Regions from separate parts of the Homo sapiens genome. Here all the other regions are linked to region 2. The links come from fine-mapping of genetic effects on gene expression. A gene starts in region 2. Each other region holds a variant in brackets. All regions are shown on one strand. Distances are between the middles of the regions. Region 1 has its middle 65 kb from the start of KPNA3. Region 2 holds the start of EBPL (EBP like). Region 3 overlaps KPNA3 (karyopherin subunit alpha 3).

What was found.
Region 1: its variant is fine-mapped to the expression of EBPL in fibroblasts (GTEx, PIP above 0.99).
Region 3: its variant is fine-mapped to the expression of EBPL in monocytes (BLUEPRINT, PIP 0.95).

The regions. Positions count from the first base shown.
Region 1 is chr13:49,852,729-49,862,877 of GRCh38, reverse strand. No RefSeq gene overlaps it. Among named protein-coding and RNA genes, the nearest start is that of KPNA3, 65 kb to the right of the region's middle. The variant A/G (reference allele first, on the strand shown) is at 4,214.
Region 2 is chr13:49,686,795-49,696,943 of GRCh38, reverse strand. It overlaps EBPL (EBP like), which reads left to right and starts at 5,458. Exons shown (of 4, transcript NM_032565.5): 1 at 5,458-5,690. The coding sequence starts at 5,520. RefSeq lists silencers at 5,333-5,532, 5,563-5,702 and an enhancer at 5,166-6,163.
Region 3 is chr13:49,718,171-49,728,319 of GRCh38, reverse strand. KPNA3 (karyopherin subunit alpha 3) reads left to right here. Exons shown (of 17, transcript NM_002267.4): 7 at 2,819-2,904; 8 at 5,757-5,843; 9 at 6,196-6,365; 10 at 8,501-8,545. Among named protein-coding and RNA genes, the nearest start is that of EBPL, 32 kb to the right of the region's middle. RefSeq lists an enhancer at 3,281-3,781. The variant A/TA (reference allele first, on the strand shown) is at 5,490.

The DNA of each region.
Region 1 (10,149 bases), 170 kb before region 2:
GATTAATTACCACACAGTGAATACACATATTTAATCACCACATAGTTTAGAAAATAGAACCTTACCAGCACCCCAGAAAACTTCTTGAGGCTACTTCCACTTGCACCCTTCTATATTGCCCAAAGGCAACCACTATTTTGTGTCTGGATTCTTTTGTCCAATGTTTATGAAATTCATCCATGCTATACATAAATCGTAGTTCATTCATTTTCAGTGTTGTAAATATTCTTTTCTTTTTTTAGATTAAGGCAGTTACTTCATTTTGAACAAGGAAGTAGCATAAGCAACTCAGTGTGTGCCCCTTAAGATGGGAGCTCTTCCCCCATATCACTCCCCACTCCAAGGAATAATTTTGGGAGAAAAAAATGTCTTCTATCTGGCTACCTGTGATACCTATGATTGCACCTTCTTATATGGCGGGCACGTCATCACGTCCAGACGAGCATCTAAGGAACTGCATTTTGGGAGTTGAAACTTTCATTTGGGTCTGAGATGAATGCATGAACTAACACAGGGCCATGGACCCACTAGTCTTGATCAAGTTAGAGAAAATGAAGGTGACTATTTACACTTCCAAGTTGCTTTCTAGATCCTTTCATTAAAAAATGTTCTGATCAGGCCGGGCGCTGTGGCTCATGCCTATAATCCCAGCACTTCAGAAGGCCGAGGCAGGTGGATCATGAGGCCGGGAGATCAAGACCATCCTGGCTAACACAGTGAAACCCCGTCTCTACTAAAAATACAAAAAGAAAAAAATTAGCTGGGCATGGTGGCAAGCACCTGTAGTCCCAGCTACTCGGGAGGCTGAGGCAGGAGAATGGCGTGAACCCAGGAGGCAGAGCTTGCAGTGAGCAAGATAACAGGATTAAGAGATTAAAGTTTAAAGAGATTAAAGACAGACATAAGAAATTATAATAGTATTATTTGGGAACTGATAAATGTCCATATTAAGAAGAAATCTCCACAATTTATGTTCCTCTGCCGTAGCTCCAGTCAGTCTCTCCATTCAGGGTCCCTGACTTCCCGCAACACCAAGTAAGCTTTTCTTTTCTTTTCTTTTCTTTTCTTTCTTTCTCTTTTTTATCCCCTCTCTCTCTCTTTCTCTTTCAGATGGGGTCTTGCTTTGTTGCCCAGGTTGGGGTACAGTGGCACAATCACAGCTCACTGCAGCCTCAACCTCCCTGGCTCAAGCAATCCTCCCTCCTCAGCCTCCCAAGTAGCTGAGACTATGGGCACACACCACCATGCCCAGCTAATTTTTGTATTTTTTGTAGAGACAGGGTCTCATCATGTTGCCCAGGCTGGTCTTGAACTTCTGGGCTCAAGCAATCCTTCCTCGGCCTCCCAGAGTGCTGGGATTACAGGTGTGAGCCACTGTGCCTGGCCTAAACTTCTTTTCTTTATGAGTGACCCAATCTGTGGTCCTTTGTTATAGCAGCAGAAAAAAAAAAAATGACAGGTACTATGGGGGAAAATGGACAAGGAAGATCCTCTCATATGGGCGAGAGGGTGGTTATTTTGGCTGACCAAGGAACTCAGCATACTTCTGGAAAATGAGAAAAGGTGATATGGTTCATGCTGTTGACTCACACCAGTATTTGTTGCTTCCCCGCTCCCATTTTCACAACTTTATTGAAGTATAATTTTGAATAATAAACTGCATATATTTGAAGTTCACTATTTGATAAGTTTTGGTAAACATATGTAACTATGAAACCATCTCCACAAACAAGATGCTGAACATTTCCATTGCCATTGAAGGTTTTCTCATACCTGTCTGCAGTTCATTGCACTTTTTAACCTGTCCCCAGGCAACCACTGATCTGCAGTCTAGCTACATAAGTTAGTTTTTATTTTCAAGAATTTCATATAAGTGAAATAATACAATATATATCTTTGTTTGGTTTCTTTCAGTCAACAGATTACTTTGAGATTTAATGAAAATCAGTTTTGATTTTGCTCAAGTGATCCTCCCACCTCAGCCTTCCAAATAGCTACGACTATAGGCACGCACAACCCTGCCTGGCTAATTTTTAAAATTTTTTCTAGAGGTGGGGTCTTGCTCTGTTGCGTAGGATGGTCTCGAAATCCTGAGCTCAAGTGATCCTCCTGCCTTGGCCTTCCAAAGTGCTGGGATTATAGGCGTAAGCCACCACACCTAGCTGACTTTCATTTTCTTAACTGACTTTCAAAGAGAAATGTTTTAAATGTTGATGAAGCCCAACTGATTACCTATTTCTTTTTCTTTTTTTTCTTTTTTTTTTTTTTAGATGGAATTTTCTTCTGTGGCCCAGGCTGGAGTTCAGTGGTGTGATCTCGGCTCACTGCAACCTCCACCTCCCAGCTTCAGGCAATTCTCCTGCCTCAGCCTCCTGAGTAGCTGGAATTACAGGCATGTGCCACCATGCCCGGCTAATTTTTTTTTAGTAGAGATGGGGTTTCACCATGTTGGCCAGGCTGGTCTCGAATTCCTGACCTCAGGTGGTCAGCCCACCTTGGCCTCCCAAAGTGCTGGGATTACACATGTTAGCCACCATGCCAAGCCCCATCTATTTCTTTTATATCTTCTTTTGTGTTCTACTTAAGAAAACTTTGCTTATGCCAGGGTCCCACAGATTTTGTCCTATATTTTTTCTAGTAGATTTATAATTCTAGGTTTACATTTAGATCTATGATCCATTTTAGATTTTTTTTTTTTTTTTTTTTTTTTGAGATGGTGTCTCCCTCTGTAGCCCAGGCTGGAGTGCAGTGGTGCAATCTTGGCTCACTGCAACCTCCGCCTCCCGGGTCCCAGTTCAAGCAATTATCCTGCCTCAGCCTCCCAAGTGGCTGGGATTACATGCACATGCCACCATCCCCAGCTAATTTTTGTATTTTTAGAGAGACAGGGTTTCACCATGTTGGCCAGGCTGGTCTTAAACTCCTGACCTTGTGATCTGCCCACCTGTGCCTCCCAAAGTGCTCGGATTAGAGGCATGGGCCACCGCGCCCCGACATTTTAGATTAATTTTTTCGTAGGGTCTGAGGTCAAACTCCTGGCTTCAAGCAATCAATCCTCTTGCTTCAGCCTCCTGACTCACTGGGATGGCATGGGCCACTGTGCCTGGCTCCCAGCCTCCTCTTTAATCAAGGAGCTTTGGCTCTGTGAATTGACTTAGATCTCAACACAAGAGGCCATGACTGTCCACTGCAGTGACTCATCAGGTTTTTAGCTACCAGACCTAGAATTTTTCCCTCTGTTACAGATCAAGCAATACAATGGTAGATTGCCCATCTATTTCATTCCTAAGAACACCATAACTTAACCACCATCAAATATGTCTGCAGGCCAAAGCATTCTGATTGCCCTTTACAGTGGATGCATTTACTTTGTCCTTGGAGATTCAGTGCCACCCCTACCTATGCCACTCTGAGATCCCATCATCCCATCATTGAAATTGGGGAGACCATGTCAATGGCATATTTTCCACCTACCCTATAGAAGAGAGCAACCACAGAGCTCTCCTTTGAAAGAGGTTGCAGGTGCTCCATTTATTAATGCATTTCTCAATGCTTTAGTGAGGGAGATGTCTTCTGGGTTTTCTCATGGGACATTGTTTGGAGGTAGGACTGAACAATGACATGATGAGAACAGTAAGGTAATGTTTTATACCATATTCTGGGCTCTGTTCATGATTACTTTTTTCTGATAATAAGGACTGTTTCAATATTTTAGACATTTTAGAACATGACAGAAGATTACAGAAAGATATTAGGGTATTTTATGATTTGAAGTCTCACAAGGGACAGAAACCAGGGAAGTCTCCAGGTTCCTCAGCTGCATTTATTTGTGTATCTTCTTTTGAGGATTCTGCCATTATTATGACAGATTTTCCGTTCTTAGTTTTGGGTCTCTCCCTTCCAATTCTGGCAGGAGAAAAGCCCAATTTCTTTTTCTCTTATTTTATCAACATTCTTGGAGCCTTTACTGATAAAGGCAAAATTCAGTACAAAGCATACTTTTAACTGGCCTATTTAACAAGTATTTTAAAGAGCAAAAATCTTTCCTATCAACTTCCACAAAGGTGTCCAAAGTCATCCTTTTAAATTGGAAAGAGTTCTTAGGGAATTACGCAATGGTATGTACAAACCTGAACAGGCTGTACTCATGAGGACAAATATGTGATTTATCTAAGCATAGTAAATACTTCAGAGTTTAGTTTTCAGGGTTGGA[A/G]TGTCTACTGTAAACAGTAGCAATGACTATCTCTATAGCAAAATTTCCAAGCATAAGAAGAAATCAAGTTTTTCAAGAGAACATTTGCTCAGTAATACCTTTGCTCTTTTATTTATAGGGTAAAAGAGGGAAGAAATATGAGAAACATGCTTATAATACTTTTTTCTTCCCATATCCTTTTCCTTACCATAAAAAAAAGTTCTGTGGACTGGAATTAAAGATCAATGATGTATCACTGAAGCCATGAAGTCCTGCAAGTTTACATCATGATGATTCAGTGCTCCTGGATTAGCAAACCTTCCTCTCTGTGCATAAGCATCCCTCAACAATCCCAGGCCCCCGTGTCAGTACTGCTTCTGAACAACTCGCTAGTAAGCCCTTGAAAGAATGCAAACCTCTTTAATGTAGTCAAATGAAACAGATTTGTGCTCTGTCAACTCAGTCTTGACTTTTGCCTCCAGATTGTGGATTACTTGAGATGCCTGAAATATATTGTTTTTAAAACTGAAAGGTAGCTCCATCATTTCAAAAGCAGATAGTAGAGATGTTTACCAAGAAAAACATAGCCAAGGCCGGGCGCGGTGGCTCACGCCTGTAATCCCAGCACTTTGGGGGGCCGAGGTGGGCAGATCACGAGGTCAGGAGATCGAGACCATCCTGGATAACACGGTGAAATCCCATTTCTACTAAAAATACAAAAAACTAGCCGGGCGTGTTGGCGGACGCCTGTAGTCCCAGCTACTCGGGAGGCTGAGGCAGGAGAATGGCGTGAACCCAGGAGGCGGAGCTTGCAGTGAGCCAAGATCGCGCCACTGCACTCCAGCCTGGGTGACAGAGCGAAACTCCGTCTCAAAAAAAAAAAAAAAAAAAAGAAGAAGAAAAACATAGCCAAAACATTACATTCCAGCCCATGGGCAGTGAAGATTAGATTTTCCTGTTATCTTCCACCTGTTTTTGTTGTTGCTGTGGCTTTTTGGCTTGTTTGTTTTCATCCCTGCTGTAATCCCTGATTAACTCTTATTTTTTCAGGTTGTTGTTTCATGTATTTTGGCCACCACTTCCTGCCAAAACTATCTAATATCTGTACATCTCTAGAGGGTTCTAGCAACTATGCTGTCCTTTTTTATAGGAACTGATTCTTTTTTCTTTTTCCCACCCATTGAGCTGATTCTACTTGAACTCAATGAACTTTTGGTCTCTGTGCTTCTTTATTTTAATTAATTGAGCTTTCTATCTAAATTGGCACACTAAATCCTGAACAATCCAGAGCTGCATGTTTGGTCTAGATTGGTTAGCCACACTGCAGGTCATAGAGTTAGCGTGGAAAAAATATTCCAATTTCCAGACCCTTGTGAAAATCAGAATTAGCCAGAAGCACCAGTTTGTAGAATCATGGACAAATCTGGGAAAGCCCAACAATTTGGGGGATGTTTAGCCCCAGATGCACAGGATTGGATTAGAATTAGTTCTAATCTACCAGATGCGTTGGCACACACCTGTAATCCCAGCACTTTGAGAGGCCAAGGCGGGTGGATCACCTGAGGTCAGGAGTTCAAGACCAGCCTGGCCAACATAGTGAAACCCCATCTCTACTAAAAATACAAAAATTAGCTGGGTGTGGTGGCAGGCACCAGTAATCATAGCTACTTGGGAGGCTGAGGCAGGAGAATCACTTGAACCCAGGAGGCGGAGGTTACAGTGAGCCAAGATCGCGGCATTGCACTCCAGCCTGGGCAACAAGAGTGAAACTCTGTCTCAAGACAAAAAAAAAAAAGAATTAGTTCTAATCCTATTTATGGCATACTTTCCTCTGTGGTCCTTAAGTGGCCTCCTCCATTAAATATTGTTATGTTAATATACATATAAACATAGCTGTAGACATAGATAAATACTCATGAACCCACCATCTCAAGCAAAAACTAAGACCTTGACAACAACCTACATCTAACCATATGGTTGCTTTTCCCATCGTGTCCCTCTGCCTTTGTCTACTCAAGGTAGCCATATTGCTGAATTCCATGTTAACAATTTCCTTGCCTTTAAGTCACCATAGTGTTTGCAAAAAAATAAAAAAACAATTTCCTTGCCTTCCATTTCATATAGTTGAATTGCACGTATTTGCATTCATAAAAAGGAACTATTATCTTGGTCATAAATTTTATTAAAAATGCATTGCAGAATATGTAAACTCTTTAGATTCATTTATTATTATTATATTGTTAAGATTCCTCATATTTTTGTGTGTTGTTATGTGGGAGTTCAATCAGGCTGGTGGGAAAAATATTAAAGATAGTTATAAAAATAAACACAAACTTTCTTGGAAGGCCTGAAGGTTTTTACAGAAGTCTCAGGATAAGACAATGGCTGAAGGCAACCTAATCCTTACCTTGAGTAAAAAGCTTCAAGTGGGTAAGGAAGAAGGCAGAGTAGTGTATCTAGCTAGGTTGTTTAAGACTAACCTTTGATCTACCACCGGTGCTTAATTACTTTCTACAGGAAGTCCACAATGTCAATTACCCTCTGGTGGTGTTGACTCAAGCCTTTGTCAATTCATCTTTACTAAATAAATGCGAGTCTCACTAGTTGGTCAGGGCCATGGTCGTGACTGTTTACAGCACTCTGCTTGGAGTCTGTAAGTGGCCCAGACACTCAGCTGGACTGGCATAGCAGAATATCTGTGTGTCAGTGTACTTCATTCATCCATCGTTTGGGTCAGGGTCTGCAGATAGACCCCCTCATTGCTATAGTTCATTCATGTTGACTGCTGAATAACATTCCATTGCGTGGATTTACTACAATTTATTTATTCTGTCTTTTATAGTTAGGCTTTTAGGTTCTTTGCAGGTTTTTGCTGTTGTGAACTGAAATCCTGTGAACTTCCTTATGCAGTCACTTGTACACATGAAATGGTTTATGTTGGGTCTATACCTAGGAGTAGAATTGTTGGGTCATTGAGTATGTGTATTAGTTTCATAGAGCTGCTCTAACAAATTACCATAAACTGGGTGCCTCAAAAAAACAGAAATGTGTTATCTCACAGTAAGTGTCCTCAGGGCTGGTTCCCTATGGGAGCCTCTGAGGGAAAATCTGTCCCATGTCTCTCTCGGCTTCTGATGGTTGCCAGCATCCCTGGACACCCCGTGGCTTGTAGATGCATCACTCCAATTTCTATCTCTGTCTTTACATGGTCTTCTCCTCTGTGTGTTTCTGTCTCTGTCTCTCCTCTTCTTCTTTTTTTTTTTTTTGAGATGAAGTCTCACTCTTGTCCCCCAGGCTGGAGTGCAATGGTGCAATCTCAGCTCACTGCAACCTCCGCCTCCCAGTTTCAAGCAATTCTCCTGCCTCAGCCTCCCAAGTAGCTGGGATTACAGGCGTCCGCCACCACACCTGGCAAATTTTTGTATTTTTAGTAGAGATGGGGTTTCACCATGTTGGCCAGGCTGGTCTTGAACTCCTAACCTCAGGTGATCCACCCACCTCAGCCTCCCGAAGTGCTAAGATTACAGGCATGAGACCCGTGCCTGGCCTCTTCTTTTCTTATAAGGATGCCAGTCCTATTGAATTTAGGGCCCAGTATGACATCATTATAACCTAGCTACTCACATCTGCAAAGTTCAAATAAGATCACATTGAAGGTTCCAGGAGTTAGAATTTTAACATTTTATTCTAGGGGACAAAATTCAACCCATAATAGTATATGAATGCCCAAATTTAGGAGAAAATGTCAAACTTTTCCAAAGTAGTTATACAATTTTACATTCTCACCAGCATTGATAAGATTTGGTGTTATCAGACCATTCAAATTTTTACCAGATGAATGAGTATAAAATTGTGTGCCATTGTAGCCTCAATTTTTTTTTTTTTTTTTTTTGAGACGGAATCTCGCTCTGTTGCCCAGGCTGGAGTGCAGTGGCGCCACCTCAGCTCACTGCAAGCTCCGCCTCCCGGGTTCACACCATTCTCCTGCCTCAGCCTCCTGAGTAGCTGGGACTACAGGTGCGTGCCACCACACCCAGCTAATTTTTTTGTATTTTTAGTAGAATCGGGGTTTCACCATGTTAGCCAGGATGGTCTCAATCTCCTGACCTCGTGATCCGCCCACCTAGGCCTCCCAAAGTGCTGGGATTATAGGTGTGAGCCACCACACCCGGACTGTAGTCTCAATTTATACTTCCCAATTACTAATTATGTTAAACATCTCTTCATATGTTTATTGATCATGTGTTTTCTCTTCTGTGAAAACAGTTCTTTTTTTGGCCCATTTTCCTATTGGGCTGCTTATGTGTTTTTTCTTTTACTGATTTGCAGAAGTTCTTTATGATACCAGTCCTTTGCCAGTTTTATGTGTTTTGAATATCTTCTATATATAACTTTTTACTTTCTCTAACAAAGCAACATTTATCAATCTTTTTCTTTTATCACCAACTGGAGTGCAGTGGCATGATCATGGCTCACTGCAACTTCCCCAGGCTCAGATGATCCTCTCATGTTAGCCTTCCAAGTAGCTGGGACTACAGGCATGCACCACTACACCTGGCTAAGTTTTGCATTTTTTTTTTTTTTCAGAGATGGGGTTCTCGCCATGTTGCCCAGGCTGGTCTCAAACTCCTGAACTCAAGTGATCTACCTGCCTCAACCTCCCAGAGTGCTGGGATGACAGGGGTGAGCCATCACCCTGGGCCACCTTTTGCTTTATTAAATGCATACATGCTATGTATCTTTTTGCCTTTAAGTCCATTTTATCTAATATTGCTGTAGATAAACCAGCTTTATTTTGATTAGTATTTTACTGATATCTTTTTTATTCATTTACTTAGAGTCTTTGCAATTCCTTATGCTTTAGTTTTATCTCTTGTTAATAGCACATACCTGAATTTTTGTTATATCACATTTTTCCATCTTTGTCTTTAACTGATGAGTTTAGTTCATTTATATTTATTGTAATTATTTATTCGGACCTGTTTCTACCACTTTATTTTTTTTCAGTCTGACTCACTTTTTCTATATATATTATTAACCATTTCTTTAAATTGGTAACTATCTCTTCCCCCATAAGAACAAAACTTTATACACTCATCTCTTCATCTCTGTGCCCCCAATCCACATCATGTTATTATCTACACTTTGATGCCAGATTATTGTGTCTATGAGTTCTCTTTTTCTTTAGTCTTGGCTATTCTTTTAAGTCAAAGAAATTTTACCGGTGTACTTGGTCATCTTTACTTTACATATCTCTGGCAGTATCTACTAGATTTACTCTCCCTTTATTTAAGCCTTTCATCTAAAATAGTTTTCAGCATAGCCTTTGTGTGGTAAATCTTCTGAGAACTTCTGTGCCTGATAATATTTTTTTTTATCATGCCCTTATCTTTGAATGGCCAACTGGATATAAAAATAGAGGATGGGCAGGGCATGGTGGCTCACGCCTGTAATCCCAGCATTTTGGGAGGCCAAGGCAGGTGGATCACCTGAGGTCAGGAGTTCGAGACCAGCCTGGCCAACATGGTGAAACCCCATCTCTACTAAAATTACAAAAATTAGTCGGGCCTGGTGGCACACACCTGTGGTCCCATTTACTTGGGAGGCTAATCCAGGAGAATTGCTTGAACTCAGGAGGTGGAGGTTGCAGTGAGTGGAGATTGCACCACCAGGCTCCAGCCTGGGCAACAGAGCGAGACTCTTATCTCAAAAAAATAAATAGGCCAGGCGCAGTGGCTCACACCTGTAATCCCAGCACTTTGGGAGGCCGAGGTGGGAGGATCACGAAGTCAAGAGATCAAGACCATTCTAGTCAATATAGTGAAACCCTGTCTCTACTAAAAATACAAAAATCAGCTGGTCGTGGTGGTGCACACCTGTAGTCTCAGCTACTCAGGAGGCTGAGGCAGCAGAATTGCTTAAACCCAAGAGGCAGAGGTTGCAGTGAGCCAAGATCG
Region 2 (10,149 bases):
GCCACAGCGCCTGGCCTAAATTGGGGTTTTTTAAACCCTGCACTATTGACATTTTTGGCTGGATAATTCTTTGTTGTGTGTCATCTGCCCTGTGCAATGTAGGATGTTTAGTAGTATCCCTGGGCTCTACTCACTAGATAGCAGTAGCACCTCTCTCCTCTCCCCAAGTTAAGACAACCAAAAATGTCTCCAGACATTGCCAAACATCTGGGGGCCCAAAACCATCCCTGATTGTAAACCACTGTCCTAAATCAATTCCTATAGAAAACTCCACTCAAATGAGACAGCCTAAATCATGACTTTTTTGTTGTATGAACAGTCCCAGGCTTTCCTCAGATGCATAAGATGAAGAAAGGAGACACAAATGTGCCTTTTCTTCATTCTGAGTTTTAGGAAAAATTGAAGGCAGGCCTAACCTAATTTCCCAAATCATCTGTAGGAAACTCCAGGTAGTACTGAACATCTATTTCAAGGGACTTGGGATAAAGAAATAGAAATATGGAGCAACTAGTTACCTCTTAAATTTATCCTGTGGCTAAAAAACAGGGTTGTAAAACAATCAAATGTGTTAATTGCCCAAATCTCAACACCCTATGGCAGTGTTTTTCAAACACTTGTAGTTGAAAATCTTTAAGTTATCTAGGGAAAACTGGAGTTGTACTAGAAAATCATAGCATAGTTTGAAGATCACTTGAAGCATTGTTGAGAGATTGGCCTCATCAGAAAACTTACAATCATCTATTAAATTATTAAAAACAGAAACTATGGCCGAGCCATGCCATAAAGAAAGTATTCTCTGCAGGGAATTTCTTCTACAGCATCCCCCTTCCCTACCCTAGCAAATTGCCATACACCTTCTTGAGGAATTCCCTTAAACTGTGGTACCCAAAGATGCATGGGGCCTTGTGCCAAATAGTGTGAGAAACCATAAGATAAGGAACACTTTCGTGGGACAGCAACTTTACTAGGTGGTAAGTAAAAGTTTTATTGGTAATACAAGCCAAAGTGTTATAAAGTATACATTTTACATATTTTAAACATAAAATCTGATTTTTGAGGCAGGGTATTTTATGGAAACATTCCTGCAGGAGTAAGTTAGAAGAGCTTGAGAAACAAGGTACTCATTTTGAGGGAGCTTGTATTTATTGGCTAGCTTTGCTTGCTACAAGATCCTTTCTTAACCTGGGTGCAGTGGCCCACACCTGTAATGCCAGCACTTTGGGAGGCCCAGGTCAGTGGATCACTTGAGCCCAGGAGTTTGACACCAGCCTGGGCAATATAGTGAGACCTCATCTCTACAAAAAAAATAAATAAATAAAATAGCTGGGCCTGGCGGTACATGCCTGTAGTCCCAGCTACTTTGGAGGCTGAGGCTGCCATACACTGGACCCGAGATCGTGCCACTGCACTTCAGCCTGGGCCACAGAGTTGAGACCCTGTCTCAAAAGAGAAAGAAACTTAAATTTCCATCATTGTAAATTAACTGTTTTTGATTGGGAGTAGACTTTGTTATTTCCAGATAGCAGAGGAGACTCATCCATTTTTTAAATCAGCTTTCTTTTACTCGAACACCCCTTGCATTTCATCCATTCTCATTATAAAGTCATTGCTGGACCTGGTTCCTGTCAGCGTGATGTACTCCAAGGATTCCAACAATAAGGAGTGTGGTGTGACTGGTTTCTGAGTACTTTGGAATGAATGGGAACATTCCATTATCTGGACTTTTGATTCTATTAATGTGGGGGGAGTCTTTCAGTTATTTTACCAGCTTCATCATAATTAGGTTTGTGATCAAGTCACACCCTCTTTATCATCAGCTCTCTTTAACCCAAATCGTTGGGCATCTACCCTTTTCAACTCTAAACATAAGAATAAATTTCATATTTACTTCAGCCTAGTTTTTCTCATGAGATCACATTCTACATATGTATCCTTTCGATGTCTTCAGTCTTATATAAATAAGAATTCTGACTAAGCCTTTAGAAACATTCGAATACTGAATACTCTGTCCCGTGCCAGGTACTGTGCTATGGCACAGGATACTTGTAAAAATAACAGGAATAAAAAAAAAGACAAGTTTTGACAAATGTTAGAAAAAAAGAGGTATACAATGATACACATACTAGAGGAAATTGGCTACTGAGAAAGGTGATAACCAGGCTAATGTTGAGCCCTTAAAAAGTGCCAGCCAAAATTTCACTGATCGTGGTGAAAAGGCAGGAGTTTATTGGGCACATTGACTGGAAAAGCTTTCCAGCAGTGGGAAGAGTCTGTACAAAGCCTTGTGGGAAGCACCATGGGGTATTTGAGGAAGTGAAAGAAAGCAAGTATAGCTAGATGAAAGATTATAATGGAGAGGAGGATTAATAGGGGAATGGGAAAGGGCTAAAGAGATAGGGAGGGGCCAGACCCCACAGTCTAGTAAGTCATAAAAAGGATTTTGGTATTCTATATGAAGATCATCATTAAGCAAGAGGGATAATAGATTAATAAAGATCACTAGTTGGTAAGGCTAAGGACAGAAAACGTCCTTTGGATTTAGTGATGTAGAGGTCGCTGGTCACATTAGTGAGTGAAGCACAGACGAGATGGTGAACAGGTCCATGAAATGCATGGAATCAAGAAATACTTGGCTGCTGAGGAGGAGTTGGTGATGCCTTAGATGCCAAGTTTGGGGAGAGAGAAGTATCGGGGATGATTTCTAGGTTTCCGGGTTGTAGTAACTGATGAGTGGAAGTAACATGAGATAGGAAGGAGAATCAGACATTGGGGTGGAAAGTGATGAGCTCAGTTTGGGTTATATTGAGACATCCAAGTGACTGTCAAGTAGGGCAGTTGGAAATACTGGTCTGGAGTCCAGAGAATAGGACCAGGCTAGAGATTTGAGTTCTCTGCAGGTTTTGCTGGTCATTAAAGCAGAGGGTAAGGATGAGACTGCCTGGATTTGGGGTCTGGAGTGAGAACAGGGCCGAGGACTGGGTTGTGGAGCTGCAGCATTCACTAGGCATTTGTAGTGGAAGATGCACTTGCAAAGGAAACAGAATGGCTAAGGAGGCTGTATTCTCAGAAAACCAAAGGAAAAATATTTCAGTGCTGGGATGCTGCTGAGAAGTAAACTACACTAAGAAAATGAACTGTTCTTGGGGTTCAGTGATGTGGAGGCCAGTAGTCACCTTAGTGAGAGCTATATCAGTGTGATAAGGCAGAAACCAGAGTAGAAAGGACTGAGGAGCAGGGTCAAGACATGAAGACAGGGGATCTGATCAGTTTTTTCATTAAGTTTCTATTTTGCTCTGAAGGGGAGGTGGGCCGAGTGGTCCCTAAAGGATGATAAGTTAGTTACAGGACAGGATCCAGAGCATAGGTGGCTAGATTGACCATACTCAGTCGCCAGTTATTTAACTGAGCAGCTAATATATGCCAAACTCTGTAATAGGTGCCAGGGATACAGCAATAAAAAAGCTAGCCACAACCCCTGGCCTTGAAGACTTACATTATAGTGGCAGGAGATTAGCAATAAGTGTGTAAACAAGGATCATTCTATCTGGTGTTAACTGCTATAAAAAATGGTATAGGAAGTGACTAAGGGAAAAATTTCTTGTGTTCAGTGCCAGCATTTTTTTTAATAACTGTAAAATACACATAAAATTTGCCATCTTAACCATTTTTAAGTGTGCAGCTCAGTAAAGTATGTTCACGTTGTTGTGCAACCAATCTCCAGAACATCATCTTGCAAATCAAACTATCCGAATAAATAACACTCCACTTTTCCCCGCGCCCCCCCCCCACTCCCGCCCCGCCCCACCCCTGGTAACCATCATTCTATTTTGTTTCTGCAAATTGATTATTTTAGATATTTCCTGTAAGTGGAATCATAAGTATGTTTTTGTGACTGGCTTATTTCACCGACCTCATAGGGTTGTTGTGATGTTAAATAATGTAGGTTTGTTCCCGGACCAAACTGGGGGTTGGGCAGCCCAATAATGAGGTGCAGATGAACTGGGGAAGAAGAGTTTTTATTTCTGCAACCGGTTACAGGGAGAAGGTCTGGAAATTATTGCCAGACCAACTCATAATTACAAAGTTTTTCCAGAGCGTATATACCTTCTAAGCTATATGTCTACGTGTAAGAGTGCATTCATCTAAAGACGTAAGTGATTAACAACTTCTAATCCTGAAGACCTTCCTCTGGAGCCTCAGTAAATTTACTTAATCTAAATAGGTCTGGGTGCTGGGATGATTACCCTTATTTTGTCTCTTGCTAAATCATGGAGGCTTGTGGAATTCCTCCAGACTCCCAATAAACTTGTTTTTGGAGGCCTGGGGAGTTTCTTCAGACCCCCAATAAAACTTGTTTAATCCTAAACGGGTCCTGTTAAAAATTCCTTAGTTATCTTGTCATGCTTCAAGGCCCAAGAAAGGCCTAGGCAAAACTCTTGGTGGGCTTTTGTTACATTCCAGACTTTGGTATATGGGCACTGACTCTTTCAGCTTTTAATTTTTTTTTTGTTTTTTGAGACGGAGTCTCGCTCTGTTGCCCAGGCTGGAGTGCAGTGGCGCGATCTCGGCTCACTGCAAGCTCCGCCTCCCGGGTTCACGCCATTCTCCTGCCTCAGCCTCCGGAGTAGCTGGGACTACAGGCGCCCGTCACCACGCCCGGCTAATTTTTTGTATTTTTAGTAGAGACGTGGTTTCGCCGTGTTAGCCAGGATGGTCTCGATTTCCTGACCTCGTGATCCGCCCGCCTTGGCAAAAAGTGCTGGGATTACAGGCGTGAGCCACCGCGCCCGGCCTCAGCTTTTAATATTTAATTTAACCACTCAGTGCTGAAGCAGTTGTGATGGAGGCCTGCGATAGTGAAACCTGGCCTGCCACAGGTTAAACGCATCTATCGCCAAGCCAATAGGACTTACCGCTCCTCTCACCCACCCTTCTACTTTTCTGGATTTTTAAGAAATGGAAAGATTGTCAGAGTAGGCCATAAAGGCTTTAAGCCGGCTGGTGGCTGAAAACTCCCTTGGCCCCCAGCCTCCCTGGTAAGGCTTGCTGCAGCCTAATTAAAACCTTTTGCCCCTAAAATTCTGCCCCGGTCTACTGGCAAAATTTCCACTACCTAGGCTTCACTTTGTGGCTTAAAGTTTGAGCCTTGTTAAAAGCGAAACAACATCAAAAGGTGTGGCCCTATTACCAATCCTTTGGGCTCGGTTTGGGAACAGGTTTGGTCGAGGCGGTTGCGCAAGTTGGTGAGCACGTTCCTTCTACGGAACCTCCATGGGCGGCACCTGGCAAAACCACCGGACTCAGCAGGCTGGCCAGGGTGCGAGGCGGGCACGGAATCCTCGCTCTGGCCCCGACCCGGCCGGGGAGCCCCGTCCCTCCCCGGACCGCCTTGGCCAATCAGCTCCGCTCCTCCTTGGCCATCCGGCTCCGCCCCTTCCCGGCCAGCCCCGCCCCGTCGTTTCTCTCCCTGCTTTCCTCTGCCGCATGGTCCTGGGCCGTTGGCGTCGGAAGCCTGAAGCATGGGCGCTGAGTGGGAGCTGGGGGCCGAGGCTGGCGGTTCGCTGCTGCTGTGCGCCGCGCTGCTGGCGGCGGGCTGCGCCCTGGGCCTGCGCCTGGGCCGCGGGCAGGGGGCGGCGGACCGCGGGGCGCTCATCTGGCTCTGCTACGACGCGCTGGTGCACTTCGCGCTGGTAAGTGCCATCGCCTAGACCCTGCACTCCCCATCCCAGAGAGTGGGAGCGGGGGCGGCAAGGCGGGGTGAGGGGGTCCTGCGGCTTTTTGCAGCGAGCTGGCCGCCCCTCCCCCTGCTGCAGGAAGTCTGTTAGCTGAGAGGCGCCTGGAGGCCGCGGCGGCCGGAGTTCTGATTCCCAGGTCTGTGAACAGAGCGCAGCTTACCTTGTGCTGCCGATTCCTCCACCAAACTTTAAAAAAATTCTGTACGTGCTATGTTAGTTTAGAAGATACCTCAGCTTCCTCGGCTTTGTAACCTGCACGTAACTGTTGAACTGGACATAATTGAGAGTAGAATTGAGGTCATTTTTAAATGCCCCAGAGGGGGCAAGGAGAGATGCTTGCTCCGGAGGCAGCAAGGCTATTGTCGCAAAACCCGAAGCCTTTGCCAAGACAAACGAAACACCCGTGTCTAATGTGTGCCAGGCGCATTACTGAGTTTAAAATTTCAGATCTTTACAGCATCCATAAATTAGTTATTATTGTTCCCCATTTTACAGAGGTGAAGGTAGGCGCTGCAAAATTAGGTGACTTTCCAGTGCCACACAGCTGGCATGATTCTGAGGCAGTCTAGTCTGGCTCCCAAGTTTGCACTCTGTGTATCAGTCGAGGTCTTAGGAAATATGTGTCCTTAGAGATTCAACCCATTTTATAAAATAGCCAGGAAGGTTGTGTTTAAGGCATTTATATTGAAATGCCCCGCCCCCCACCACACACGCGCACGCACACACACACACACACTTTTAAGTTTTTTTTAAACTATGCCCAAGTATCAGTTTGTTTTTTTTTTTTTTTGTAAAGTTGACCTTGTTTAACTCTAGACACACCTGTGGCTAATGTGAAGCCAAAGTCAGTAGTATTGAGAAAGCAAGCCGAGTTTTGGGTAATCATCGAGTTCTGTAAATGTTTACGGGTTGGCTTTGTGCCCATGACTGATGTTGCTGGAATTCTTTTTATTCTGATAATCAACATGTAGAGATAAGGGACAGTGAATGTTTCTCTCAACTCCTTTATTTATAGAATTCTTTTTTTTTTTTTTTGTCTTTTTTTTTGTTGTTGTTCTTGAGACAGAGTCTAACACTGTTGCCCAGGCTGGAGTGTAGTGGCACTATCTCGGCTCACTGCAACCTCCGCCCCTTGGGTTAAAGCTATTCTCCTGCCTCAGCCTCCCGAGTAGCTGGGATTACGGGCGCCCGTCACCACGCCCAGCTAATTTTTGTGTTTTTAGTAGAGATGAGGTTTCACTATGTTGGCCAGACTGGTCTCAAACCCCTAACATCAGATGATCTGCCCACCTTGGCCTCCCAAAGTGCTGGGATGACAGGCGTGAGCCACCGCCACCGCCACCAGCCGAGAATTGATTTTTAAGCTATCACTTGAACACAAGGTTTCCCACAGAACAAGGGAGATAAAGCAGATTGCTAGGCCCGGTTAGAAAAAATGTATAACAAAATGTATAACATAACAAAAATGTTGCTAGGCCCAGTGAGAGAAAACTGTGTAACATATTGGCTGGGTATAACTGTATATAGCATATCAGAATGTATATATATAAAAATGTATAACATATCGGACACAGTGGCTCATGCCTGTAATCCCAGCATTTTGGGAGGCTGAGGCGGGTGGATCACGAGGTCAGGAGTTCAAGACCAGCCTGGCCAACATGGTGAAACCCCGTCTGTACTAAATATACAAAAATTAGCCAGGTGTGGTGACGGTGCCCATAATCTCAGCTACCCGGGTGGCTGAGGCAGGAGAATTGCTTGAACCTGGAAGGTGGAGGTTGTAGTGAGCCATGATCAAGCCACTGCACTCCAGCCTGGGCAACAGAGCAAGACTCTATCTTGGGAAAAAAAAGAAAAATGTTTAACATACCTTAGACAAACAAAAAGCTGTAAAAATACTTAAACTATATGCGTGTGTTCACCACTTGGTTTAAGACTGTTTACTTTTCAAGCTCAGGTTGTTACAGGTAACACGACACACACCTCCTTTTGTGCCATTACCTACCCCAGCTGCAAAGTAGTCCACTGTGTGAATACACCATACCTTAGTTCTCCAAGTCTAAGACCCACATTTTTTCACATATTAGAAGAATCAACTACATCATGTAACTACTGTAGGCCATTTGATTGATATTTTAATGTCTCTAAATTGGGATGTATCTTATATTTGATGAATACGATCACTTAACCAGCCCATATTAGTGGACACATTTTTCTGTCATTACAAACAATGCATCTACCAACGTCTTTGTACATGTGTCTCAGAGATCAGTGGGGAGAGCACTTGAATTAAGCAGTTGAGGCTGCAAGAAAATACATGCCCATGTTGTCTTTGCTTGGGAGTTTATTGCAAGAATACCCAGAAGTGTGGGACAAGCTAAGACTAAGATGTAGAGCTTAGGGGAGAACCAAAATTAAAACTCACTTGTTCACTAGAAGATGAGTTGCCTCTCCTTAACCCGACACTTCTTTTTTTTTTTTTTTTTTTTTGAGACGGAGTCTCGCTCTATTACCCAGACTGGAGTGCAGTGGCGCAATCTCGGCTCGCTGCAAGCTCCGCCTCTCGGGTTCACGCCATTCTCCTGCCTCAGCCTCCTGAGTAGCTGGGACTACAGGCACCCGCCACCACGCCCGGCTAATTTTTTGTATTTTTTGTAGAGACGGGGTTTCACCATATTAGCCAGGATGGTCTCGATCTCCTGACCTCGTGATCTACCTGCCTCGGCCTTCCAAAGTGCTGGGATTACAGGCGTGAGCCACTGCGCCTGGCCACCCCCTGACACTTCTTAAAGAGAGGAGCTCTGTAGGTTTTTTGGCTGCCATCAAATTGAAAGCTATCCTGTTGGACAGTTTCAAGCCAAGCATTCCCAGGGGCAGTTCATTTCCCAGATGTCCAACCAGAGTGCAGTCACCTTGGGCCCCAGCACTGGTCATCAGTTCAGCTCGTTATGACTACAGCAGAGGGCAGGCTGACTTCCCATCAGCCTACCTGGAAGGAGCCATGGCAACATACTAGAAGAAGGAAATGGTGGGGTCACCATTCTGAGGTCGCTGTGGGCAGCCTAGGCACTGGTGCTTCATGGATAAAATTTTATCTCTTCTGCAATCTATGTATAGCATTCAGGCATGGCCAGAAACATGAGGCAAGATATGAATGCCTGTGTATGGAACACATCCTGTAGTCCAGATTGACAGGAGCACAGGGTTTACATAAGAAGTGGGAGGACCAGCTGGAAAGGTGACAGGTAAGAATTGTATTCTGTAGTGAGAAGCCACTGAAGGATTTCAAGCAGGGAAGTCACGTGGCCAAAGCAGATCTTCATAAAGATAATTTAGTGGTGATGTGTTAAGTCAGAAACTCTAGCGTCCGAGATTTTACCCAACTTAGAAGTTAACAAGGTAGTCCAGTTTGATTCCCCAAGGCCCAAACCCCACAGGACAACATAATGAAGGCCAGATGTTACTGCCTGTACATGCAGTGGGATGCGTTACAAGAAAGGAACTCCAGAACTACGCGTCCATCTTATTGTGAGCTGGTGGTGGCCTGTCCATACTTCTCTCTGGAGAGACCTTATCTTAGGAATGTAAACCTCTGAGGAGGAGAAGGTGAGGTCTTGATCTTTACCACCCTAGAACCTCTCTGGAGGGAGCTGTCTCCCAGGTTTACTACTCTGGAAAGGCTCATTATAGAAACATTCTTAAAATTGATATAAATGTCTTTGCTCAGAGACCCAGACAGTGCAGGATGTGAGATATTCATGGAGAATTGTCTCTCAACATGGTGCAGGTTGGATTGGAAAGGATGGAGTTGAGGGGCAAGAAGAGCAACAAAAAGCAACTGCTGTAGTGTGGGGAGTCATTTAAAAAAAAGAGAGAGGCAAGCTGAGGTGGTGTTGGAACTTAAAATGGGGAGGAAAGCTAACTGTGAGAGACTTTCCAGGGGAGAATGTGGTAAGTCAAAGTGGCCACTTGTAGATTGGGGGTGGACATGATCTTGGGGCTTAGGCCCTGAGCAACATGGGTAATGGTGATCATGTTAACTAAGACAGCAAAATCTGGCTTTAGAACTATGAGTCGGGGGTCCTCGTGTGCAGTTAAGAGAGAATAGTGCTGGGCAGTGGCTCACACCTGTAATAAGCACTTTGGGAGGCCGAGGCAGGATTGCTTGAGGCTAGGAGTTGCGAGACCAGCCTTGCTAACATAGTGAGGCCTTGCTAACATAGTGAAGCCTCATCTCTACGAAAAATTAGCTGGGTGTGGTGCTGCATGCCTGTGATCCCAGCTACTCAGAAGGCTGAAGTAGGAGGATCACTTGAACCCAGGAGATTGAGGCTGCAGTGAGATATGATTACGCCACTGCACTCCAGCCTAGGTGACAGAGTGAGACCCCATCTCAAAAAGAAGAGAGAGAGAA
Region 3 (10,149 bases), 31 kb before region 2:
ATCTTTTCCTCAGATATTGTTGTTGATTGTTTGCCGCTGTGGATTTCATCTTCAACATCGACTTGTCCTTTTTTTTTTTTTTTTTGAGACAGAGTCTCGCTCTGTCGCCCAGGCTGGAGTGCAGTGGCACGATATCAGCTCACTGCAAGCTCCGCCTCCTGGGTTCACACCATTCTCCTGCCTCAGCCTCCCGAGTAGCTGGGTCTACAGGTGCCTGCCACCACGCCCGGCTGACTTTTTGTATTTTTAATAGAGATGGGGTTTCACCGTGTTAGCCAGGATGGTCTCGATCTCCTTACCTCGTGATCCGCCTGCCTCAGCCTCCTAAAGTGCTGGGATTACAGGCGTGAGCCACCATGCCCGGCCGACTTGTCCCTTCTTAAAAGGAGTTAACCATTTGTAAACCGCTGATTTCTTTGGGGGCATTTTCCCCGTAAAGTTTTAAGTACATCAGTGAGTTCACCATTATTTCACCCAAGCTTCACCATAAATTTGATGTTTGTTTTTGCTTTAATTTTAGCAGGATTCATGTTGCTCTTCTAGGGGCTCTTTTCAGATTGATGACTTACCCCTTACCCCTCTTAGTGCCTCAAACTAGATCATGTTCAGACGTGTATAGAAAGTTAGTATGAGTTTATTTTGGTGCAAAAAAATTGAAATCCATGGAGTTTTTTTCATAATACACATTTTTAATGAGTTTTTTAAAGTCCCCTCATAGTTCTTCTCTGCTACTTCATTTTCTCATATGTTCCATCTTTTTAACCTGTATATCACTATTTGCTATATCTCTGACATCTATTCTCCTTAAAACCTTTTGTTCTTGGATCTCTTCAACCTTTTTTCTCTTTTTTCTTTCTTTTTTTTTTTTTTTTGAGATGGAATCTCTCTCTGTCGCCCAGGCTGGAGTGCAGTGGTGCAATCTCAGCTCACCACAACCTCCGCCTCCTGGGTTCAAGGGATTCTCCTGCCTCAGCCTCCCGAGCAGCTGGGATTATAGGCACGCACCATCATGTCCAGCTAATTTTTGTATTTTTAGTAGAGAGGGGGTTTTGCCATGTTGGCCAGGCTGGTTTCAAACTCCCGACCTCAGGTGATCCATCTGCCTTGGCCTCCCAAAGTGCTGGGGTTACAGGTGTGAACCACCTTGCCCGGACTTCTTTAACCTTTTGATACTAACAACCTTGCTTGCTCTCTTCCCTGTTTATAGGCTTTTCTTCAAACTCCCTAACCTTTGTCTAATCTTAATTTTTGCTGACTAAATCCCCCCAATCCTTGGTATTCCACTTAAGGGAATTTGTACTCTTTCAGCTATCCTAACTTAATATCTATCATTTCCTTTTAACAGGTCTTTCCTTTATGTCTTTTTTGTGACAGGGTTTCACTCTGTCACCCAGGCTGGAGTGCAGTGACACAATCACAGCTCATTGAATCCTCAAACTCCTAGGCTCAAGCAATCCCCCCATCCCACCCCCGCCCAGCATCCCAAGTAGCTGGGACTACAGGTGTGTACCACCACATCTGGCTGATTTTTTTATTTTTTGTAAAAATGGGGTCTCACCGTGTTGCCCAGGCTGGTTTCGAACTTTTTGGCTCAAGCGATCTGCCTGCCTCAGCCTCCCAAAGTGCTGGGACTACAGGTGTAAGCCCCAACATGTCTTTTAATAGGTCTCTCCTATATCAGCCTTTAACCTTTTTTAGCCATTCTGCATACCATTGATTTGAACATTATTTTCTTTCCTCCCTTTTTCAATGCCCCATCCTTAGCATATCTGTAGAATACACTCCTCACTCCCATCCTGAAACACACACACACATGCACAAACACCCTGTTACTTGCTTCTTAGTTAGTTTCAGCTCTCTTGATCTAATCCTTGTCGTTCCTACACATCATGATCCTTCCATGCATGATACCTGTTTTATTTCCCACTGTCACTGCCTTTCTTTTTAAATCCATCTTTGAAAAGCTAGTTCAGTTGTCACTTTCTTTGTGAGGTCTTCCATTACTATTCGAAAATATAATGATCTTGTTTTTTCAACAAAATTATACAGCCTTGTAATATCCCTAGTATGTAAAGCAGATGGTGTAATGGAGACAGATGGGGTTCTAGCTTTAAGACCAGCCTAGAGCGTGTGATAGTGGTTAAAGTGAGATGATGAGGGCCTCAACTAGCACTTGATATTAGGGGTGATTATATAAATGTAAGAAATGTTTAAGAGGTAAAATCGACATGATATATTGATTAGATGTGTCTGTGGAGAGGAAGTCGAAGTCAAGGGAAATAATGACTGGCTAAATGTTGTAATACCAGTGGACATAAAGAAGCAGGTTCATAGTGACTGGCTTTGGGAGCCAAAGAGATTTTTTAAGTAGAGATGGCTGCTGGGTGCAGTGGCTCATGCCTATAATCCCAGCACTTTGGGAAGCCGAGGTGGGCAGATCACCTGAAGTCAGGGGTTCAGGACCAGCCTGGCCAACATAGTGAAACCCTATCTCTACTAAAAGTACAAAAATGAGCCAGGTGTGGTGATGTGCACCTGTAATCCCAGCTACTTGGGAGGTGGAGACGAGAATCACTTGAACCCCAGAGGCAGAGATTGCAATGAGTCAAGATGGCGCCACTGCACTCCCGCCTGGGTGATGGAGGGAGACTCCATCTCAAAAAAAAAAAAAAAGTAGGGTTGGCTAGCAGGCAATTGGATTATAACAAGGTGAAATTCAAGGACAAGGCAAAGAATAGCCATATCTTATCAGTCTTAAGATTCATTAATTTAAGTGGTAGTTATGTGTCTAAAAAGATGTGTTATTGTTTTTTTACAGTCCTTCATTACAGTTTGAAGCTGCTTGGGCATTAACTAACATAGCATCAGGAACTTCTGCACAGACTCAAGCTGTTGTGCAGTCTAGTAAGTAAATTCCTTACTGTCTGAACTTTTTGTGTTTTAATGATGGCAAGGAAGTAGAGTTTTGTAATAAAGAAATTTTATCTTGTAACATTTTTTAAATGATGACTTTTATAAGTTACTTTTGATGACCGATATCTTTTTCATAGCCGTCATTAATTTATCATGAAAAATTTTTAATTGTGGTTATTAAAAGAAGAGTAGAGTTTTATCTTTTGGAGTAGACATCATGCTGTGATAACAGGATTTTAAATTCCGTTTCTGATATCTTCAAGATGCTGAATGGCTTCTGCCTTTTAGCTTATGACATATTTTAAATTTTACTTTCCTCAAGATGGGCTAATAATTATTGTTAAATGACACTGACACAAGCTCTTTAGAAAAGTACTAGATATCACCACGTACGTTATTATAGTATGGGACACTTAGCTAATTTTAGGTGTGGTAATCAAGGTGATTTTAAGTAGCATGTGATATGGCAGTAAGTTACATTGAATCATGTATTGAGAATACTATTCTCACCAGACCCACAGGTGGCTCATGCCTCTAATCCCAGCACTTTGGGAGGCTAAGGCAAGCAGATCACTTGAGTTCAGGAGTTCAAGAACAGCCTAGGTGACATGACAAAATCGTGTCTCTACAAAATATTTAAAAATTAGCATTGCATGGTGGCGCATGCCTATAGTCGCACCTACTCAGGAGACAGAGGCGAGAGGATCGCTTGAGCCAGGGAGGCAGAGGTTGCAGTGAGCCGAGACTGCACACTGCATTCCAGCCCCGGCGACAGAGTGAGACCCTATCTCAAAAACAAAGGCTGGGTGCAGTGGCTCAAGCCTGTAATCCCAGCACTTTGGGAGGCCGAGGCGGGTGGATCACGAGGTCAGGAGATCAAGACCATCCTTGCTAACATGGTGAAACCCTGTCTCTACTAAAAATACAAAAACAAAATTAGCCGGGCATGGTGGCGGGCGCCTGTAGTCCCAGCTGCTTGGGAGGCTGAGGCGGGAGAATGGCGTGAACCCGGGAGGCGGAGCTTGCAGTGAGCCGAGATCGTGCCGCTGCACTCCAGCCTGGGTGACAAAGCGAGACTCCACCTCAAAAAAAAAAAAAAAGTTATCATGTGACCCAGCAGTTCTACTCCTAGGTGAAACCAAGAGATATGAAAACATATTCATACAAACACTTGTACATAAATATTCACAGCAATGTTATTCATAACTAACCCAAATGTTCATTAACCGAGGAGTGGATAAAGTGAATGTGGTGTATACAATGGAATACAATTCAGCAGTAAAAAAGAATGAAGTACCAATACCTGTTACCACATGGATGAACCTGAAGAATGTTAAGTGAAGTCAGACCCCCCAAAAAACACAGTATGATTTCATTTGTATGAAATGTCCAGAATAGGCAAATCTGTAAAGACAGAAAGCAGATATTTAATGGTTGCCTGCCGCTTGGGGAATGTGTGGCAGAGGAACAAATGTGGAATGACTGCCTTAAGTATGAGATTTCTTTTTTCTTTTTTCTTTTCTTTTTTTTTTTTTTTTAAGACGGAGTCTCGCTCTGTCGCCAGGCTGGAGTGCAGTGGCGTGATCTCAGCTCACTGCAACTTCCGTCTCCTGGGTTCAAGCAATTCTCCTGCCTCACCCTCCCAAGTAGCTGGGACTACAGGCACACACCACCATGTCCAGCTAATTTTTGTATTTTTAGTAGAGACGGGGTTTCACTATGTTGGCCAGGATGGTCTCAACCTCTTGACCTCGTGATCTGCCCGCCTCGCTTCCCAAAGTGCTGAGATTATAGGTGTGAGCCACTGTGCCCGGCTGAGTATGATATTTTTTTTTTTTGAGACAGAGTCTTGCTCTGTCACCCAGGCTGGAGTGCAGTGGCACGATCTTGGCTCACTGCAACCTCCGTCTCCCTGGTTCAAGCAGTTCTCTGCCTCAGCCTCCAAAGTAGCTGGGATTACAGGCGCCCACCACCACGCCCGGCTAATTTTTATATTTTTAGTAGAGACAGGGTTTCACCATCTTGGCCAGGCTGGTCTTGAACTCCTGACCTGGTGATCCATCTGCCTCGGCCTCCCAGAGTGTTAGGATTACAGGCATGAGCCATCATACCCAGCCAAGATTTCTTTTGAGGTCCTGGAAATGTTATAAAATTAGATTGTGGCGATGTCCTCACAACTCTGTATAAATATGAAATGTCATTGAATTACACACTTAAATGTAAATTTATTGTAATTATATCTCCGTAAAGTTGTTAAAACTGAATTAATTTAAATTTTAAGTAAATAATACAAGTAATACACAGATACAGCAAAAAAAAAAAAATGAGGTAGTGCACAGTTGATTGAAATTTTTAAAAAGTGATCTAGCTTATGCTGGAAATGGGTATAATGTATACATTCTGTAAAGAGTAAGGATTATGAGAAATTATTTTAAAGTATAAGATAGACCTGATATGAGATTAATCAGTTCTTTGGTTAATCCCCGTATCAGGAATTGAGATTTTGTAGACTAAAGCATTACATTTTAAGGTTACATGTTTGGGGTAGGAACTCTTTTTTTTTTTTTTTTTTTTTT[A/TA]ATGGATTATAGGAAGGATTTCATGCTGTTGCTTTCTTTTAGTTAATGGTATGATAGCAACCTTTAGATACTGCCAGTTGGTTACGGTACTTGACTATTACTAGGGGAAAATACTGAAATTGATTCTTTTTAGGGTAAAGATATTTGCCACATTTGTTCTTCCAGCTACAATATGCCAGGCTGTGTATTTGATCAATTTCTTTGATCTGAAATCTGTAAACTCTTCAACATGTTGCTAGTATAAATATTAGTTTTTCTTTATTACAGATGCAGTACCTCTTTTTCTGAGACTTCTTCGTTCACCACATCAGAATGTTTGTGAACAAGCAGTATGGGCTTTGGGAAACATTATAGGTAAGTGGTTTGAAAGGAATCCTCTTAAGAATCTAAATTAACTTTTTTCCTACATTGGCATAGCCATTACATACTATGTTTCCTCTGAATTTAATGTGTGTTGACTCTCTTCTTGCCTCATAAGTACTGACTTAAGATGATGCTCTTTGAAAAGGATATACAGTTTGCTGTTAGCATTGGTAGGTTAAATTTACGTTCCCCAGATCAAAATCTGGAGAAACAACACTTGATGCCTTTGACTAATGGTGAGGAAACATAGAACGTCAGTGTTCCCACATGAGCCATTGCATACATTTCAGACTTTCTCATCCTGAATGTAAGTTTTTTTTAAATATAATTTTCATTTCTGTAGGTGATGGTCCTCAATGTAGAGATTATGTCATATCACTGGGAGTTGTCAAACCTCTTCTGTCCTTCATCAGTCCCTCCATCCCCATCACCTTCCTTCGGAACGTCACATGGGTCATTGTCAATCTCTGCAGGAATAAGGATCCCCCGCCGCCTATGGAGACAGTTCAGGAGGTAAATGAAGAATTGTAAAGGCCAGATGGTATATTTTCCCTATGTTTGTACTTCAGGAATTCATATACAGGGGACAAAATAATACATATACTGATTTCATTGCAGGTGTGAGTTTTTTGTTTGTTTGTTTGTTTGATAACGGAGTCTTGCTCTGTCGCCCAGGCTGGAGTGCAGTGGCGCGATCTTGGCTCACGGCAAGCTCCACTTCCTGGGTTCACGCCATTCTCCTGCCTCAGCCTCCTGAGTAGCTGGGACTACAGGCACCCGCCACCACGCCTGGCTAATTTTTTTGTATTTTTAGTACAGACGGGGTTTCACCATGTTAGCCAGGATGGTCTCGACCTCCTGACCTCGTGATCTGCCCGCCTCGGCCTCCCAAAGTGCTGGGATGACAGGCCTGAGCCACCACGCCCAGCCACAGGTGTAAGATTTTAAAAGTAACGTACCATATTTAATTACTCCTATGAAATAAAAGTTGAGTGTCTTACTGTACCTGAAAGAATGTCAGTTCATCCTAATGCCTATTTTTTTGATTATCTGCATAAAAAGAAAATATAAAAATTCAGAGAGAAAAATACAAAAGGAAAACAATCTCAAAGTTTTATTACTGTATTGCATTGTTGGTTTAAAGCTATAAAAGGGGGTTGCTACAGGCAAAACTAGTATACTTACATGCAAATGTTCTTGAATGAGTTTGCTTTAAGTCCAATTGATTTTTTTTCTTCTTCTTCTTCTTTTGAGACAGTCTTGTTCTATTGCCCAGGCTGGAGTGCAGTGGCATGATCTCAGCTCACTGCAGCCTCTGCCTCCTGGGTTCAAGCGAGTCTCGTGCCTCAGCCTCCTGAGTAGCTGGGATTACAGGCCAGCGCCACCACACCCGGCTAGTTTTTGTATTTTTAGTAGAGATGGGGTTTCACTGTGTAGGCCAGGCTGGTCTCAAACTCCTGACCTGAAGTGATCTGCTCACCTCAGTATCCCAAAGTGCTGGGATTACAGGTGTGAGCCACTGCCCCCACGGCCTAACTCCAATTTATTACTGACAAAATTGGAGTTCTTAAAAGTGTGACATATTTTTTGTTAAATCTACTAATTAAAACAAAGTAAAAACTTTTTTATTTACATTTGATATGTAAATAGATCCTTGTGCTTTGCATTTTAAAAAAAAATCCTACATAACCTTTATTCACTGTTGACTGTGTTATCTCTTTTTTTTTTTTTTTTTTTTGAGACAGTCTCGCTCTGTTTCCCAGGCTGGAGTGCAGTGGCACAATCTTTGCCCACTGCAGCCTCCACATCCGGGGTTCAAGCGATTCTCATGTCTCAGGCATGTGCCACCATGCCAGGCTAATTTTTGTATTTTTAGTAGAAATGGGTTTTCACCATGTTGGCCAGCTGGTCTTGAACTCCTGGCATCAAGCAGTCCACCCACCTCACCCTCCCAAAGTGGTGGGATTACAAGCATGAGCCACCACACTTGGCCAACTGTGTATCTTTATAATGGACATCTTTCTCTAGTACCTGCTACTTTTTGTTGCTATGCAAAGGTATTTTGTGTGATTTCCTACAACCCCCTGCTCCCTTTCTCCCATATTTTAAAAAGAGATCTCTGGGGCCTGAATTTAACAAGCAAAGCTTTGTACTTTGTACTGGTTCGAATTTTCTTGACTAAAGGTGAAGTTGAAAACTTTAATTTGACTTAAGTAGCTTATTAAGTAAAATCGTATTTTTACGTTAAGCAGGTAAGTGAGACAATTACGGCAGTTTTAAGTGTAGCTTTTCTTAAATAGCTGTAACTGTATATTTGCATCTCCATTTTTTCCACTTGACATTTTATGCCATAAAGAAGGTTATTAAAAACAAATGTTTTTATTTTAAGGTACATTAACTTCTGCCAGATTTATTTGGATATTTTAACTTGTTAATTGAACATATTTCAGTTTAACATTTGAGATATGTTTTTGGTTTTTTTAGATTGAATTTATCAGGTTTTCATTTTCCTAAAAGATATTCAGACAAATTTAACATTGTCTTTCTCGCCCTACAAACCATATTTACCGCTTTTTATGTCAAAGTTGTTCATTTTTACAGACATATTAATTAACTAATGTTAAGTATTGTTTATTTTCTTTCCTCAGATTTTGCCAGCTTTATGTGTCCTCATATACCATACAGATATAAACGTAAGTTAAGAAGCAGCTTAAATGTGGGATTTTGCTCTTGATGGGACAGAAAGGGTTTTTATGTAAGTGTCAGCATACATTTTATCAACTTGTCAAGTTTCTACAACGTATTTACAGTTTTCAGAAATAGGATTAAGCTTAAATTAGGTTTATAGCTTAAATCTGTAAGCAGTAACAGCCAGACAGCAAAAATGCTCACTTTTGAGAAATTACTGCATATGTAGTTTATTTCTGTCATTATTAAGTAGTGTTTTTAAACCTTAATATTTGTAAAGCGGTAAAACCTCATGAAACACCTTACTTTTTAAAAAAAATCTCACTGGTTCTTACAACAGATAGGCTAGATATTATTCCCCCCATTTTATAGAATAAGAAGAAACGGACTCTCAGAGAGAGATTAAATGACTTATCTAAAGTGGAAGAGCTAGTAAGGGTCAGAGTCAATATTCAAATTAAAGTCTTCTCATAACAGGTCTTGGGTACTTGTCACAAAACCATGCTGCCTTTTTATGCTACAGTCTTTTTAGATATAGTATAGAAGAATATATAGTTTTAAATGCAAGGCATTTTTAGGTGATTTTTTTTCATTATATTCAGATTTAGTGAAGCATTTACTGTCAACGTTCTGGCAAGTTTGATACTATCTAGGCAATCTGAAAATTCTCCTAAATGCAGTAAGGTAAATTGTTACTTTTCCATGGAGTAAAACAGTGGATAAATTTCGGTGACTAGTGTTGATCCAGTTTCTTTTATTCTAACTAACATCTCTTTCTGATTTGTTGTATATTTGTGTTTTTGTAATCTTTATCTACATACACATAACATGTACATACATATGTGTATATGTGTGGCAGAATTGTGAATTGTGTGTAATTTATCATTGGGACAAAGAAATACATCTTTGCTTACCTTTCTCACAAGGCAATATAATTTGTATATAAAAATTGTATCACATTACTCTAGCTCATTTGCAGATTTTAAGCTCTCAGGATGGAATCTTTTAAAGGTAGCTAAAGTCACTTCGTGTTTGACACAGCCTAAAATGTCATTAAAATGAAGTAAAACATGTTTATATGCCGTCTTATTTCCAAAATGGATATAAAGTGACTTAACAAAAGACATATAAGATAATATCTGTAAAGGAAAAAGTAAAATTTATACAGAAGTTTAGTTGTTGCTGTTGAAAGGTAAGTTTAGTTGTAAGCTTTCTGACAGCAAAGATTAAAAGGGGAATAAGCAAAATATCTGCTGTTTGCCTCAGGACTTTCCCCCAGAACATTATAGAATTAATTATAGGCAAATAAAAGCTTTCACCATCTGTTGGTTGTGTTTATGTGAAAGCTGGGGTATTAAAGTGGCAGTGTACTGTAGTTACAGGTATATTAGTCAAGTTTAGCAAACACTCACAAATTATTCCACTTAAAGCCAGAATTGTGCCATGAATTGTACACTCAGTGATAAGACATAAAGAGACCATGCCTTCTAAGACCTTAACATTAAAGATGTAAAAAGAGTTAAAAGGAAAGAACTTATGTCAAGAAATTGCTGTGCTGGATCTCTCTGTAGACTCCTTTTATCTTACCAGTATCCTTGTAAGATAAGTT